Regions from separate parts of the Homo sapiens genome. Here region 1 is linked to region 2. The links come from fine-mapping of genetic effects on gene expression. Tissue or cell type: whole blood. Region 2 holds a variant in brackets; the other region holds the start of a gene. All regions are shown on one strand. Distances are between the middles of the regions.

Region 1 (8,106 bases), 420 kb before region 2:
GTAATAATGGTACCTGTCTTATGGGGCTGCTTTTAGGATGACACGAGATAATGCATGCCAACTGTTTAAATCAGGGATTGAAAGGCAGTAAGTATTCAATGAATGGGGCTCAGAAAGTGTTCAGTGAATTTGCTGCAAACCACAAAGCTAGGTAAGTGATGGAGATGGGGTTCTAGCACCTGATTAAAGCACAGTCTGGTCACTTCATCTGTTAACATTGGGTAGAAACAGTCAGAAGAGGGACAAGTCTAGGGTACAGTTATGATATGAGCTTGGTTTTGAAATATGGAGACATTGATGGGGCTGGGAGGGGATGTCTAGGAGGTAGTTGGACACACAGGACTGAACTTAACAGAAATCTTGGCTAGAGATGTCCTTTTACCCACAGTCATCCCTCACAATGTATGTGAAGTTATAGTCATCAAGAGTGTACTACCTAATAGTCAAGTAACTGACAGATGGTGTTTAATAAAATTGTGTGACCAAGATTATTGTAAATTCTTTAAGTGGTTTTAGTCAGATTTTTATGTTTGACTATTGATCTCTCTTGCCAAAAAATTTTTATGATGCCATAGGATTGTTAACTGTAATGAAAAGCCCATATTTCAGAAACATAAAAGCCATCTCCTAACCATATGAAGTTTAAAGATTTCTGCACTAAAAGCCACCCCATTAAGAAGTTAATTAACCCTCAGTCAAAATTTCTAAACTTCATCTCCTTCAACTGAAAGCAGTTTTTCAACTCTTTTAATATGCTGAATTTGTTTGTTTAACATTATTTAAGGAAGAGATTCCTATTATAGGTTGTGTCACAAGTTGAATGGGGAAAAAAAAACTTCAGTGCTCCTCAAGTTCAATCTTATTTGCTTTCTGGCACCACCACCTACTCTTGGCCTCCCATCAGATACTTTACCACACTGTTAATGTGAAGTTGCCTGTTTGTATGTCAGAAGCTTAAACCTAAATCGAAAAAAAAAAAAAAAGTGTATTTTAGATCAACTGGCTACAAGTTTATGAAGACAACACAACTGTGTATAGCAGAAGATAGCAAACTGTGGTTCACAGATCAAATCTGGCTTGTTGCATGTTTTTGTATGGCCCATGAACTAAGACTAGTTTTTACATTTTTAAACTGCTGAAAAATATCAAAATAAAGATAACATTCCATGCTATATGAAAACTGTAGGAAGTAAAAATTCCATTTTATGGGAACACAGCCATGCTCATTCATTTATGCATCATTTATAGTTGTTTTCATTCTACAATGGCAGAGTTGACTATTTGCAACAAGGACTGTGTATGGTGTTTTCAATGCTACACAGTGCTCTCCAGCAACCCACTAATCACGAGGATGAGATTACAACTCCACAGCATTTAAAGTGCATATCTCTCTCTATGGTAACATTTAAAAAAATTACCAGTGCTATAGCCACCATGTCAAAAAGAAAAGAAAGAATAGTGGGCTCCAAATGTCATGCTTCTAAGGCACAGTGGAGTGTGTATTGTTTGTTACCAAATTAAATAGCACTATGGTTTAAATGTGACCCCCCCCAAAGTTCATGAGTTGGGAATTTAATCCCCAATACAGCAACAGTGTTGGAAGGTGGGGCCTAATAAGATGTAATTAGTAGATCATGAGGGCTCTGCATAAATAGATTAATGTTGTTATCGTAGGAGTGGGTTAGTTATTGAGGGAGTGGTTAGTTATTGTGAGAGTGGGTTTGTTATAAAAGTGAGTTTGGGCTTCTCTTGCTCTCTGGCTCTTGCCCTGTCACCTTCCACCACGGGATGGCACAGCAAAAAAATGCCCTTGCTGGATGTTGGCCCCTTGATATTTAACTTCCCAGCCTCCAGAGGTGTGAGCCAAATAAATTTCTGTTCATCATAAATTACACAGTCTGTAGCATTCTGTTATAGCAGCACAAAACAAACAAAGCAGAGGAGAAAGCATTGTGTTTATTACATGTTGACACTCCAAACAATATAATAGATTAAGCACTCATCACATCTTTTCCAACTTACACAAAAGCAATGACAAGAAAAATTAGAAAATTTAAAACAGAATATCTCATCACAGCACAATTTCTTTAAAATAATAAAAAGTGAAAATGAGACTACAACCAGAATAAGTTTCCAAGTGGCTTATTTGTTATGCAAGCAAGGCAAAATATTTTATTGATGTTAAGTTCATTAAATCATGTTTGATTATAGCAGCAGATGAAATATATCCAGTGAAAATAAATTAGTTTAAGACTTTTAGCCTTTTGGTGACACTGGTTGCTTGGTTGAGAACATTGACAGAAGCATCAATAGTGAATTTTAAAATGACTTCTAGTGGTTTTCCTTAGTTCTTGTTGACAAATATTACCAATACAGCTCAGTTGTTGTTTATTTGAGAAGTCAATGCTGAGTTCGAAGTGAATGAAGAAATAGCTTCTATGAAGAGCCTGTGTAGAAGAACTATAGGCAAGATTACTTTAAAAGAAAATGAGAAAACACTAATTCAACACAACCTGAAGTGGAATCTGCTAAGATGTGTTGCTAGTGTTCATGGTAAAAAAAATATCTGTGGAGCAGAAGAAGGCTTTTGGAGCAAATTTAGAAGGTGGGTGAAAATATAAGATATTTAAAGCTTATGATTATTAATTGTAATATTCACCATCAGGTACTTTGTGGAAAATATCTAAATCTGTGATGTTATTGAATCAGTGGTATCAAAGGTTAATTTTATTAGCTTTTCTGGACTTTTAACCATTGCCCATTTGGTAAACATTTTTTTCAGAAATAGAAAGTAAATATCCTGTCAGATCAGCATTAACATATGAATATTTGAATCAATTTCGATAAGGCACATTAACTTTGAACTCCAATAAGGTGAAATGTGATATCATTCCCAAAATGTATTTTTTTTTGCCTTACTAAGCTAGTATTACAAAAAATACTCATTCACATGATATTTTGAATTTTATTAATAAAAAAAATTTAGAACCTTTTTTCTTTCTTTACATAAGTACCTGCATCCTACATATATACTTGATTTTGCTTTCTGGACTGCAAAGACTAAAATACTATCTGTGACTTTACAGAAAATGTTTGGCATCCTCTATTGTATAGTCCCAATTTATAACATTGTTGTGATAGCTAGTTTTGTGAGTCAACTTGGCAAGGCTATGGCCCAGTTATTCAATCAAATACCAATCTTCACAATCTTCACAGGGGTTGCTGTGAAGTACTTTGTAGATGTGATTAACATCTACCATACATTGAATTTAATTAAGGGAGATTATCCTCAATACATTTGGTTGGTGTGATCCAATTAGTTGACAAACCTTATGAATAGAACTGAGGTTCCTTGAAAAAGAAGAAATTCCTCCTGAGGACATCTGCCTGTGAGTTTCCAAACTGCTCTTCCTGACAGCCCCACAATCGCATTAGCCAATCCCCAATCTCTCTCTGTCTCTCATATACATATATATGTATGTGTATATATATATATATATATATGCATATATGTATGTGTATATATATATGCATATATGTATGTGTATATATATGCATATATGTATGTGTATATATATGCATATATGTATGTATGTATGTGTATATATATATGCATATATGTATGTATGTATATATATGTATGCATATATATAAAATCTCCTACTCTGGTCATCTGGTGGAACCCTAATACCACTGCTGACTGTATAAGACATTATTACCTAATTTGTGCTGCTAGAAAACAGAAAAGAAAATAACTGCAGATAAAACAAAATCAATAATTTTTTGTTGCTCCAGTTCAGCTGTGATATTGCCTAATCTATCTTAATGACTCTCCAGTGTAAGGCAGAAAGGGGTAGTGAGAGTCATGAATAAAGAAAGAAAACTCAGCAAAACTTAAATTCAGCCTTATCACTGTGGATCAGACTTTTTTTTTTTTTTTTTGGACAGAATCTGTTCTCAGAGCAAAAATGAGATTTTTCGAGGAAATGTCTCCATTAGCCTAACTCTAGGGCTCTTTTCCTGGGTCCCACTGTTGCTGGCTGTGACAGCACCCTTCACCTTGCAGTGATGTTGGTAAATAGTGTATTTACGTATTTTCAGAGTAGAGCTTCTAGAGCTTACATCAGATTTTCCAACGGGTTTGTAGCACCAAAACGATAAAAAGCTGTAAATGGGCCAGGCACGGTGGCTCACACCTGTAATCCCAGCACTTTGGGAGGCTGAGGCTGGCGGATCACCTGAGGTGGGGAGTTCGAGACCAGCATGACCAACATGGAGAAACCACGTTTCTACTGAAAATGCAAAGTTAGCCGGGCATGCTGGTGCATGCCTGTAATCCCAGCTACTGGGAAGGCTGAGACAGGAGAGTCGCTTGAACTCGGGAGGCGGAGGTCGCGGTGAGCCGCGATCGCGTCGTTGCACTCCAGCCTGGGCAGCAAGAGAGAAACTCGAAACTCCGTCTCACAAAAAAAAAAAAAAAAGGCTGTAAAGGATCCACCTCCAGGTAAACATTTACTCTTCCATGTCACCTGCTGTGTACATTGTCTCTCTAACCCTCACAATAATCATATGAAGTAGGTATTAGTATCCCATTTCACAGATGAGAAAACTGAAGCTTAGAAAAATGAAGTCATTTGTCCCCGTCTGGATTCGAACCGAGATCTGACACCAAAGCTCATGCTGAGGGGAGTTAAGGAGGTTTGTTCAGTCCCTAGGCACGGCAATCAGGAAACTCTCTGCACTTGCGGTGGTGGTCTGGCGAGCCCCAGGTGGGGACTGGCCTCTGCTCCCTCGCCTGGGGAGGAGACAAAGTGGGAGTGGTCCCCAAGTTTTGCGTGAAGTGGGGTGGGGTGGCGTGTCTTAGCCTACGGGGCACCAGCCTTCTAGTGTGCCCCTGCCCAACGGGAGGGAGGAGGGAGCGGGGAGCCCCGGCGAGGGAGGAGAGGGCGGGCCCTGAGAGGAGTTTGAAAAGAGGAAGGAAGTGGGGCCCTGCGGCGCCCAGCCACCCCCTGACGGCTTCCCCACGGGAGGACGCGAGGCCCCGGCCCAGCCATGGCCCCCTGGCGCAAAGCTGACAAGGAGCGGCACGGCGTGGGTAGGTGCGGGCCCCAGGGCGCGGCAGGGAGCGGGACAGGTGGCGGGAGAGCCGCGAGCAGGAGGATGCTGCGGGGCCGGCGGCGCGGGGTGGGCAGGGCGCGCTGCCTGCAGGTCAGAGGGCGCAGCCTGCGGCGGGGCCTCGGGGCGGGAAAGCCGAGGCTCGGGGAGAGGACGGCGGGACCCCACCCCGCAGGCTAAGCACAGCCCTCGCCCTCTCGCCTGCTGAGGGAACCTTAGACATTTCCGAGATAGGGTCAAGACCTGCGCTTGACAACTCAGTTCTTCGCGCCAAACTCGGCGTCCCCAGGAGTGCCCCAGCTCGCCGCGTGGGAGACTTGGCCTTGTAGAGGGAGCTCCACTCTCCCCTGGCTCAGCCTTGGCCTGCCCACCATGCATACTTCCACCCCCTCCAAAGCGACACCCATTTGCCTGCTTCCCCTGTCTGTTCCTCCTGGGTCAGATGACTCCTGATTTGGCAGGGCATCCAGAGGGCAGCTCAAGCTTGGGGGAATGGGGCTGGACGGTGGGGTTCTCTACTCAGCCCCCCAGAGCCTCTGGGGAAAAAGGCTCCCGCCAGGTGGTCTTAGGGTAACCAAGAAGCTAGCTTCGTCAGCCTCAGCCATCTAAACTCCCAGAAGCCTCTGCCTGGAGCTCAGGGGCGGAAGTGGTGGCTGGGGGAAGGGAGGCCTCAGGTGCTGCTACTCTAAGTGTCATCCGTGGTGCAATCTCCATGGACTCACTGTGGTTTTTAAACTTAAATATCAAATAAAAAGTCACTCTGGAGCTTCCTACACAGGCGGATACCAGACACCATCTCAGAGATAAATATTTCGCAGGTGAGGCATTGGAAGACCCAAACACCCAGAGGGATTTGATGCAGGGGGTCCCCAGGCCACTGTTTGGGAAACACTGCCCTGGAGAGATCAGCAGTTATCCACTCAATTACTGGGTACCGGGCACTGTGGGGTCATTTTGATATAAATGGTCCCCATCCAGAGAACAAATAATAATTCATATCTCAAGGGGCAGTTACAAAGTAAGGAAGGATACAGCTTCTGCCCTTGAGGAGTTATGTGTAAGGCTAGAGGCTTGGACTGGGAAGTCAGAACTGAGTTCAAATCAGGGTCTGTTTCCTCGTCTATAAAGTGGAAGTAATAATAATGCAGGTCTCATGAGACTCTTGTGAGGATTGAATGGGGTTATGCATGGAAAGCATTTAGTAGTGTGCTGGCTCAATAAGAGTTAGTGATTCAGGTCCAGGGTCTTACCTAGCAGCTTCAGAACCAAGAGACACCAGCACCAAGATGCACCCTAATGCCAGATTCAGGACAGTCATGCCTTATGAGACTGTAGTATTTCATGGTTTGCAAGACCAAAGGTCATGCAATCTCTGTCTGACTTCAGAACCCCCATGTGAGGCAGTGTATTATTCCCAACTTACAGGTGAAGTAACCAAGTTTACATCACTTGGAAGCAATGGAGCGGGCCTTAAATTCAATTGTCTTCAGACCCTAGGCCCTTTGCATGGCACCAGAAAAGCATCTAGAAGGGGAACATCATGGGTAAAGGCAGGGAACTGGCATCCCTGAAGTGTGTGGGTCAAACAATAAGTAGTCTGTTTTGGTTTTAGTATTGCTTTTAGTGTTAAAAAAATTTCAGAGGTAGATTATGGCTAGATTGTGAAGGGCTTTGAGTGCCAACCTTCAAAGTTTGGATTTCCTTCTCTGAGCACTGGAGGTTTTGAGCAGTGTCATCTGGAAGAAGTTAAATAGTTAATTAGGATAGGAGTGGGGAATTGGACTTAGAATAGAAGGAAAATGGGTAACAGTTTTACCTGTCTGCTGACTGCCTGGTTAATCTAGCAGGAGGTCACTTATAATCAACATTGCCTGTTAACCTTTACTAGGTTAATCCACTCTGCCTGAGGCTCTTGTCAGTGAAGAGAGCTTTCTCCTTGCAGGAGAGAGGAAAGGGCAGAAAAGAAGGAGGTAGAAAGAGAAACTAACAGTATCAGTTAGGGTTAAGTGTGACAAAGGGTGACAGAAAACCTCCAAAATTGTGGCCTAACCAAGCTGCAAGTTTATTTCTGTCTCTCATGGAAAGCTCAGAAATGGTCTGGGAAGAGGTGGTAAGGTGGCTCATTCTATATCTCACACTGTATCCTTGGCATGTGACTTCTGCCTCCTGAGCCACATAGGCTGCTTAAGCTTCGGTGATCAGGTCCACCTTCCAGCCAGCAAAAAGGATGCAGGGAAAAAGAAGGTCATGGCTTTTCCCTTTAAAGACATTTTCCTGAAGGCACACTTGACATTTCTTCTTACATTACATCCTATTGGCAAAAATGTAATCACATGACTGACTATAGCTGCAAGGGAAGCTAGGAAATGTAGTCTGTAATGTAGGCAGCCATGTACCCAGCTAAAAATTAGGAGTTCTCTTCATAAGTAAGGAGAGGAGGAAGAATATTGAGGATGATATATTAGTTTGCTCAGGCTGCTGTAGCAAAATACCACCAACTGGGTGGCTTAAACAACAGAAATGTATTTTCTCACAGTTCTCGAGGCTGGAAGTCTAAGATCAAAGCACCACCAGGGTTGGCTTGTCTCATGGCCTATCTCCATGGTTTGCAGATGGCTGTCTTGCTGCCTCTTCATTGCTTTCTGTGCAGGCACACCCTTGCTGTCTCTTCCTCCTGTCATGAGAACACCGGTCATATTGGATTAGCATCCCACCCTAAAGGACTCATTTTAACTTAATAATTCCTTTATCTCCGAATATGCACTTATCTCCAAATAGGAGTACCTTCTGAGACACTGATGACTGGGACTTCAGCATAAGAATTTTGGTGGGGACACAAATTCATGACAAATAATCTGTGGTCTCTGGCATGGTATTTTGGGACTATAAAGAGGGCTTCAAGGCAGGAGTCCTGAGATAAAGGGTGAGGGTAGAAAAGAGTTTTGTTTACCCTGAAGCTGAGCCTGCCAGGCAGATTTGTGTGGGACTCTA
Region 2 (8,106 bases):
TGGATTCTCCTCTTGGGCCAACACCAGTGGCTAAGATCAGTAAACATGACCTAGAACCTTCTCTAAAACAGGGGTCTGCAAACTTTCTGGAAGGGATCAGATGGGCAGTATTTGAGTCTTTGTGGCCCATGCAGTCTCTGTCACAACTACTCAGCTCCGCTGTTGTAGTGGGAGAGCAGCCACTGAAAACCCAAAAATGCGCGGGTATTGCTGTGTTCCAATAAAACTCTATGGACACTAACATTTGAACTTTCTATCATTTTCACGTTACAAAATACTCTTTTTCCCTCCATTGAAAACTCTTCTTAGCCTCTGGGCCTTACAAAAACAGGCAGTGAACCAGATTTGACCGCAGGGCCATAGTTTGCCAACCCCTGCCCTAGACTTAATCCAGAGTGATTTTCTTCCCAGAGCAGGCTGTTGGCCACATGGCTTGAGAAAGAAAATGGTTTTCCTGAAAATCATAGAAATACCTTCACTGAGATTTATTCATTCGTGTTAAACATTGCCATCTCTTAAGAAGAGAAATCTATTTAAGGCAGAAACAGGCATCAGAAGTAAATCAATGAAACACCTAACTTCTTAGCATAGAGTAAGTTCATCAGACAGAGGCAATTCAATTTAATTTGGAACTAGGTTTTGGTCATTTCTTATGTGTGAAAGAACCATAGTCTCTGCCATGAAAAAGCTCACAATCTGGGCAGGATGGAGGGTGTGAGGTGGGCTGGGGGGATGAGGAAGCCTACAAGGAGCTGGAGGGTGGATCCTAAGAGAAGCAAAGACGAAGGCTGTGGAAAGCCAAAGGAAGGAAAACAACTCCTAACTGGGGGGTGAATTGTTTTCATGGACTGTGGTATTTGACATCTGTCCAAAGGGTTCACAAGAGAGGGATGCTGATAAGGGAAAATGTTCCAAGGAAAGGAAGTAGTAGGATCCATTGGATATCCAGATAATGATGAAAAAATGGGTGAAGGCCATACTGGCCTAGCTTTGAATGCTAGCCAGAGGAGTTCTTGATTCCTTAGTTGGCAGACATGTCAGGCCCAGGAAAAGATTTTTTGGAGTCATGGTGGTCATTGGGTAGAATAGAGGGAGGAAAGACCTTGAATACCTAAATAAAAGACGTGGGTAAAGAAGAAATGGGAGGTAGGGAAAGGGAAGAGGGGTCAGGAGTGGGACCAGTGACCGCTGACTTTTTTCATTCAGTTTGCCATATTGTCAGCTTAAAAGGACTAAAGACAGACCTAGAAGAGGCATGACAAGGGTCTGACCCACATAGTGCTTTTCCAATATCTGTGCCTGTTGCAGGCATCACTAATCCACCATGGGACTCTTTTCCACTGTCTGAACACAGCTCCTTACCATCCTGCCATAGGCAGTTGCTTTCAAATTTTCAGAGTTGGGGTGCAAAATGACATTTATTTGCATATTCTATAGCAGTGCTTCACAAATTTTAGCATGCATATGTTTCACCCAAGGATCTTTTACAGATCCGGACTCAGTTGGTTCTCAGATAGTCCAGAGTCTCCACTTCTAACAAACTTACGGGTAATGCTGACACTACTGGTCAAAGGGCCGCCTTTGAGTAGTGAGTCCAGAGTGAAAGAATTCTGAGCTTAGAGTTAGAAGACCTAAATACAAACTCGGATCTGTTCTTACAAGTTGTGTGACCTTCAACAAGTGGCCTGGCTTCTCTGGCCTCGAAGGGGACAATTTAGGTTAATAAGGCAACTCAGTGGAATTGAGGAGATCAAATGAGATCATGGGAAGATGTACTCTGCAATTGATTTGAGAGCTATAAATTCATTCAATAGTATTATTATTAATGATAATATAGCAATGATGATGATTAAACACCACTAGACAACTCTGTTTGTAGGGGCTGAGCCCTGGCATAAGGTTGCAGGGTGACAGCACTGATAAGGACCTCAGTGACTAACTAGTCATTAGTGCCTAGTGGGCAGCCAGCAACCTGAGGTTCATCATTCAGTAAAAATGTGGCCCCATAAAGGCTGGCCTGGAAGGTCTCAGCAAGGACCAGCTATACTTAAAACTGTCCCCGCAGCCAACAGATATAAGTCCTTAACTACAGGGATTCCAGATATCCAGTGCTTCACTGTCCAGCCTGTCTTGGATGAACATCCCAGGTTCAAGAATAAGCCAGTGCCTGACCAGATTATAAAGTAAGACTCGTTGTCCACAGGGAAGAAGGATGGGGAAGAGAACCCATTGGGGCCACCAAACTGAGCTGGTGGCAGAACAGACCCCAGTGTCTTTCTAGTTCCTTCTCTATCTTAGCCAGTTTTTCCCCCCTTTTCCTCTTGGGCAAAGAATCACCCTCCAATTAGCTGGGCTCTGCCCCTGACAAGGCTGAAGCCAGGAAGGATGGGAGAGCCAGGGTTATGGCTCAGCAAATCCTCAGCAAGCATCGAGCATTTGCTCAACTGGATGCAGTCAGCCTATTTGTTGCTCAGGTTGATCTCAGAGTGGCCCCAGGGAGTCCACAGACAGAGTGTGGCTGGGCAAGTGATAGGCAGGGTGGAGACAGGGGGCCTTGTCCATGCTGAGCACATGCTCCCAGAGGGACATCTCCTCAGCATTTGTGAAGGTTGTACATTGACAATGGTGTGTTCAGGCTCTGATAAAGGAACAGTAGAGGAAGTGCCGTGAAGGCTGATGTCCACCTGTTCTAGATCAGATTGCAAAGTCACTGATGAGGCCACAAGGTGGGGCCTCTGTGGGACCCAAGGCTGTATGCCTCCCAGCTGCCCAGCTCATTCCCCCTACCCCATGCCCAGGTTGTAATGGAGCACTTGAGTGTCTTAGAGTAGGTCCTCCCCTCTGGATGGGACAGTCAGAAACAGGATCTGCTTTGCAAGATGAAGGACCCTTCAGGGAGAGGCAGCCCCTCCCAGCAGCCTCACGAAGTGCCACAGCAGAGCAGGTGGAGCTCAGCTTGGGTCTTAACCTCCCCTCACCTTCTCACCTTCTCAGACAGGCACCCATGAGCAGGGGACAATAACTGTGCAGCTAGCACGGTGTTCTGCTGGCCCTGAAGTTAGAATCTCACCAACGATTCAGGGAGACTGATTTAGGGGGTTGGCTGGGACACCTAAAGAAATCCTTTGAGGACACCTCTGGGAAATTAGGCTCAGACCTCAGCTCCTTTGTTGCAGATCACAGGAAATCATGACCTAGGCCATCAATGTTAGAATTCCAATTGCCTGGATACTCTAGGGGTACTATGTTCTCAAAGGGGCACAAGACCAGTCTACCTTCTAAATTGCCTTGTCAGGAAAGCCTGTGCAAAAGTCACTCTTACGGAGCCCAGAACACAGACCTTGATTTTAAATGCACCACAAGGGACTCTGCCAGGCCTGAAGTTTACTGTAATGAACCTCCCTGGACAGTGCAGGGTCAGATCGGGTGTCAGCAGCCGGGGATGGCTACCAGGAGCCTCAGCCTCTTCCTGTCTTTCAGCTTCTACAAATCCAACTA[C/T]GTGCAAAGGTTCCACTACTCCCGGCCCGTGCGCAGGGGGACCGTAGACCCAGAGAATGAGTTTGCTGTGAGTATCTTCCCTACCCTTGATCATTCCCTGGAGCCACCTGGAGGAACCAGAGCATGCATCGGCCAGCCTCAGAATGGGAAGGAACTTGATAGAAAGCCAGAGAAAATAAAGCCAACCTCCATGGATACCATGACGTCCGTTCCCCAATCTCTTCCATTAGGGCCTGTGTCCTTATTTCTTGAGCCTTTTTCCCCTTAATACAGAACCCAGGCCTCATGTCAGAGGCACTTTTTCAACCACAGGGCATTCAGGCATTGCCAGCACGTAGAAACCCTCAGGCTAAGAAGGGGTGTTGATAAAATCAAACCTTCCAGCAAACACCAGTAAGAAGCCACAGCAATGTAGTCATCACTGTCCCCTGAGTGCTAGTCTCCTCTGTGTGTGTCCAGCTAGGATTCAAACAAGACTGGATTAAGGAGGTGTCTCCAAGTCTCAGCTCTTTGGCCTGGACAGTAATTCTTAATATTTTTGGAGCCACTGCCTCTTTGAGAGTCTAATGAACACTGGGAACCCTTCCCCGAGAAAACAAATGGACACATTCAATATTGCCTAAAAATTCAGACTGCTAATAAACCCAGGTTAGTACTTACTTGGCCTAAGTCCAGGGAGAGCTTACACTTAATGTTGGGAAAGAATTCTTAAGGGTAAGGTGAGAGCGTGTTTCTGGGTCTTGCAATATTTATTCTGCTTTCGGGTAGATGGGAGGCCCGGGGACCTGGCTGGGTTTCTGCCAAGCTTCTCCGATACCCAGGTTTCATAAATGTGTTTGTTGCTTTCCTGCCCTTGCCACCCCTCTGCCCACGGACAGTCCATGTGGATTGAGAGAACCTCCTTCGTGACTGCATACAAGCTGCCGGGGATCCTGCGCTGGTTTGAGGTGGTGCACATGTCGCAGGTGAGTCTGGGACATTCGTGGCAGGGCCACCCTTCCTCCGATGGGCAGGGCACAGCCAGTCTCCAAAGGCCCCTTTGACTTTAAAAAGGAGACATGTTTTTCTTTGAAGCTGCTGTGTGAGTCCCAGAATTCCCATGCAGGCAGCATTCAGAATAGTGCCTTTCAGATTTTTTTTTTTTTTAAGCATCAGATAACCTTTTTGTTCCCTGCAAATGAAACTTTCCATGGCCTCCAGTAATAAAGCTGATGAATGGGGAGCTTCTGTTGGGTGGGTGGGGTGTAGCAGAGGGCCTGGAACACAATCATTAATCATTTCCATCTCCCCCTCATACTCCTCTCATCACAGCACCCCCTTGGGGGCACCTGTGCAGTATCCCAATATGAATCCATTTTATAGTTGGAAAAACTGAGGCTCAGAAGGGAGAGATCATTTGGCTAGAATCCAAATGTTTGATCTCCCTTGTGCAGATAACACCTATTTTGCTTCTCAGCACAGCTTAGGGTCTCCACGTCCTCAGACAGCTAAAGATCTTGCAGTCCCCAAGATACAGAGGAATGGTCAGTGTGGTTGTGAGGAAACCTTGTAAATGGACATATTTAGGATGTCTTATTTATTTATTTATTCATTCATTCAGAAAATACTTAATGTGTACCTAACATGTTAGGCACTGTTGTAAGACCTAGAGATTCTGCAATGGAGCTTCCATTCTAGTGGGAAAGACGGACTAAAAAGTCAAAGTAAATATATGACAGGTGATAACTGTGATGGAAAAAATTAAAGCAGAAAGGTGATATATGAGGGATTGCTATTTTAAGTAGGGTAGTCAGAGAATGCTTCCCTCTATACTGGCTGTTGAGGAGAGGCCTGGAGGAAATGAGGAAGGGGTCCATGCTGACATTGAAGAGAGAGACATTCCAGCAGAGGAGACAGCAAGTGAAAAGCCCTGGGCCCAGAGTATGCTTGTGTCCAGATCAGAACAAGTGAGGGTGAGTAACAGTCATCTGATACCAGATCATGTAGGACCTTGTAGACCACCATAAGGACTTTGACTTTCCCACTGAGTGACACAGAGCCATGAGCAGAGGAGGGACGTGGTCTGACTTGCGTTTTCAAGCTATTGTATCAGACGATAGCATTGAGACCGTTTCACTTCTACCCTTAATGCCCCTCTCTTTTCAGCGAACCCAGCAGCTCAGTAGCCCTTCAGCCTCCTTTTTATAGGCATGACCTAGACCTTGGAAAAGTATAACAATGATGGTGATAGCAAAAAACATTGTTTTGAGTATGGGCTCAACTGTTCATATGCATGATCTCATTTCAACCCCTCAGCAACCCTGTGAGGTAGATATTATTATTCTTCCCATTTTACAGATGTGGGAACTGAGATGCAGAGTTAATTAGTGCATTGTTCAAGGTTAGTAAAAGAGATAGGGTATGACTTTAACCTCCCCTGTCAGGCACCTGGCTTGGACTCTTTATCTTTTTTTCCTTAAGAAAAAGAAGAGCCCACCCCAGCCCACCCCAGCAAGTAGTACCCCCAAAAGGAAGGAAGTGTCTGTGCCCTTGCTTCATGGCACATAAGTTTCAACAAGTGCCCCAGGTGCTGTGTCAAAGGTTTATAGCTATATCTCATTTAATTCTCATAGACCCCAGTGAGGTACATACTATTATGAGCCCTATTTAGGAGGTAAGGAATCAGAAACTTTCTGTCAATCTGTAGCCTCTGCCCATTAGCCCTGACTGAGCCCTGTCACCTGGTGGTGCTCAGCAAGGCGCCTCTTCTGTAGTCATTCCTGCCAAACTGTAGCAAACTGAGAGAGCCCATCCCTGTACTTCCCATTCCCTCAGCTACTGTGTGTCAGCCCAAAGCACTTATCTCCTAATAGCCTACATAATTTTCTTGTTTATTTTTAATATTAAGAGAATATTAAATATAACAGTAGACCATAAGCTCCACTAGAATATAAATTCCAAGAAGACAGATATTTTGTCTATTTTATTTTCTGCCATACCTCCAAGTGCTAAGAATAGTCCCTGGCCCACAACTGATGCTAACTAAAGAATACTTACATAAATTAATCAGTCAATCAATATGCAGACACCCGTAATGTCTAAACCGGTTACCTTATTTTATAAACTCAGCGTTTTGAAGTTGGGAAAGAAATAGTCAAGATTTTTGGCTTGTTTCTTTCATCCCGATGGCTTCTCATAGATGGCATTGGGGAAACCTTCAAAAAGTTGGCCAGAGTGAATTTATCTTTAATGGCCTCTCTCAGATGAGTTACCAGGAATTTCAGGGTGTCTCAGATGCAAAAGTTGAATGCTCTTCTAAGTGACTTCATTTCCAAAGATTGTTTTTGTGTTATATGAATTTGTATCTTGTTCTTGGTTATTTCCTCCATAAATTATCATGACTACAGTAATGTTTATATAGACAGGCATTTTCTGATGAGCTTCAAGTATAAGTTCTGCCTATTGGGGTTTTATTTTGTTCTTGTTCTTGGCCCTGAGAAATGGAGACTTTACAAGGAGCCCTGATCTAGGGGTCAGAGATCCAAATTCAACGTGGTCACTAATGAGCTATGTATGTTAGATAAGGACTGTATATCTCTGGGTCTTAGTTTTAATCATCTGTAAATAGGAATTGCAAAATGATGGAACTTTAGGGAGCTTAAAGGGACCTTAGGTGTCTTTTAGTCCTAAAGCTATAAACTGGAATACCTTCATAGCCTAGTAAGGGCTGTGGCAAAGTGCAGTAGCAACAGCCCCCTCCTCCATCTCTGTTGAATTACATTTTTAAAGGCTAGAATCAATGTGCTAGCTAAGTGACAGACCTCCGCCAGCCTGGTTTGGCTTGCAGTTCTCCAAGTTTTTTGTCCTGATTCTTCCTGGTTCTTGTCTACCTGCATTATTTTGTATATGAGAAAACTGAGGCCTAGCAATGGGACTTGAACTGCCAAAGCAATTTGTGGCAGAACTCAGAGGTCATGAGAGAGCACCTGTCCTGTGCAGCTCATAGGATTCCTGGGTAGACTTAAGAAGGCAATATTGGTAAAATGGCTTTGAAAAATATGAAATGCTGGGGTGGGCGTGGTGGCTCATGCCTGTAATCCCAACACTTTGGGAGGCTGGGGTGGGCGGATCACAAGGTTAGGAGTTCAAGACCAGCCTGACCAACATGGTGAAACCCCGTCTCTACTAAAAATACAAAAATTAGCTGGGCATGGTGGCATGCACCTGTAATCCCAGCTACTCAGAAGGCTGAGGCAGGAGAATCACTTGAACCCGGGAGGCGGAGGTTGCAGTGAGCCGATATCATGCCATTGCACTCCAGCCCGGGCAACAGAGCAAGACTCCATCTAAAAAAAAATTAAAAAAAGAAAAATATGAAATGCCACCTAATTGCCAGGGATTGAGATCACTTTCTCTTTCATCTTATGTTCCCTCACCCATCCACACACACTTTTACATTTTTTTCCAAAGCACCCTCCCCTGATAATTCATTTTCTCTTCACAGCAAGCCTGGCAAGAGTTACTATGTCGATAAAGAAACTGAGGCTCAGCTTAGGGAAAAGACCAGAGATTTGAGGGCTAGATTAAGTCCCAACAGCCCGTTGATAGCAAGTGTGGTATCAAAGCTTG

Evidence for each region. PIP is the estimated chance that this variant, and not a neighbour inherited with it, causes the effect.
Region 1: it holds the start of DOCK2, and the variant in region 2 is fine-mapped to the expression of DOCK2 in whole blood (TOPMed, PIP above 0.99). The same link has a PIP of 0.9 or more in blood mononuclear cells, lung and tibial nerve.

The regions. Positions count from the first base shown.
Region 1 is chr5:169,632,275-169,640,380 of GRCh38, forward strand. DOCK2 (dedicator of cytokinesis 2) reads left to right here and starts at 5,001. Exons shown (of 52, transcript NM_004946.3): 1 at 5,001-5,095. The coding sequence starts at 5,053. RefSeq lists silencers at 4,869-5,348, 5,379-5,438 and an enhancer at 5,699-5,798.
Region 2 is chr5:170,053,204-170,061,309 of GRCh38, forward strand. DOCK2 (dedicator of cytokinesis 2) reads left to right here. Exons shown (of 52, transcript NM_004946.3): 42 at 2,102-2,183; 43 at 3,481-3,565; 44 at 4,377-4,463. Among named protein-coding and RNA genes, the nearest start is that of MIR378E, 29 kb to the left of the region's middle. The variant C/T (reference allele first, on the strand shown) is at 3,499.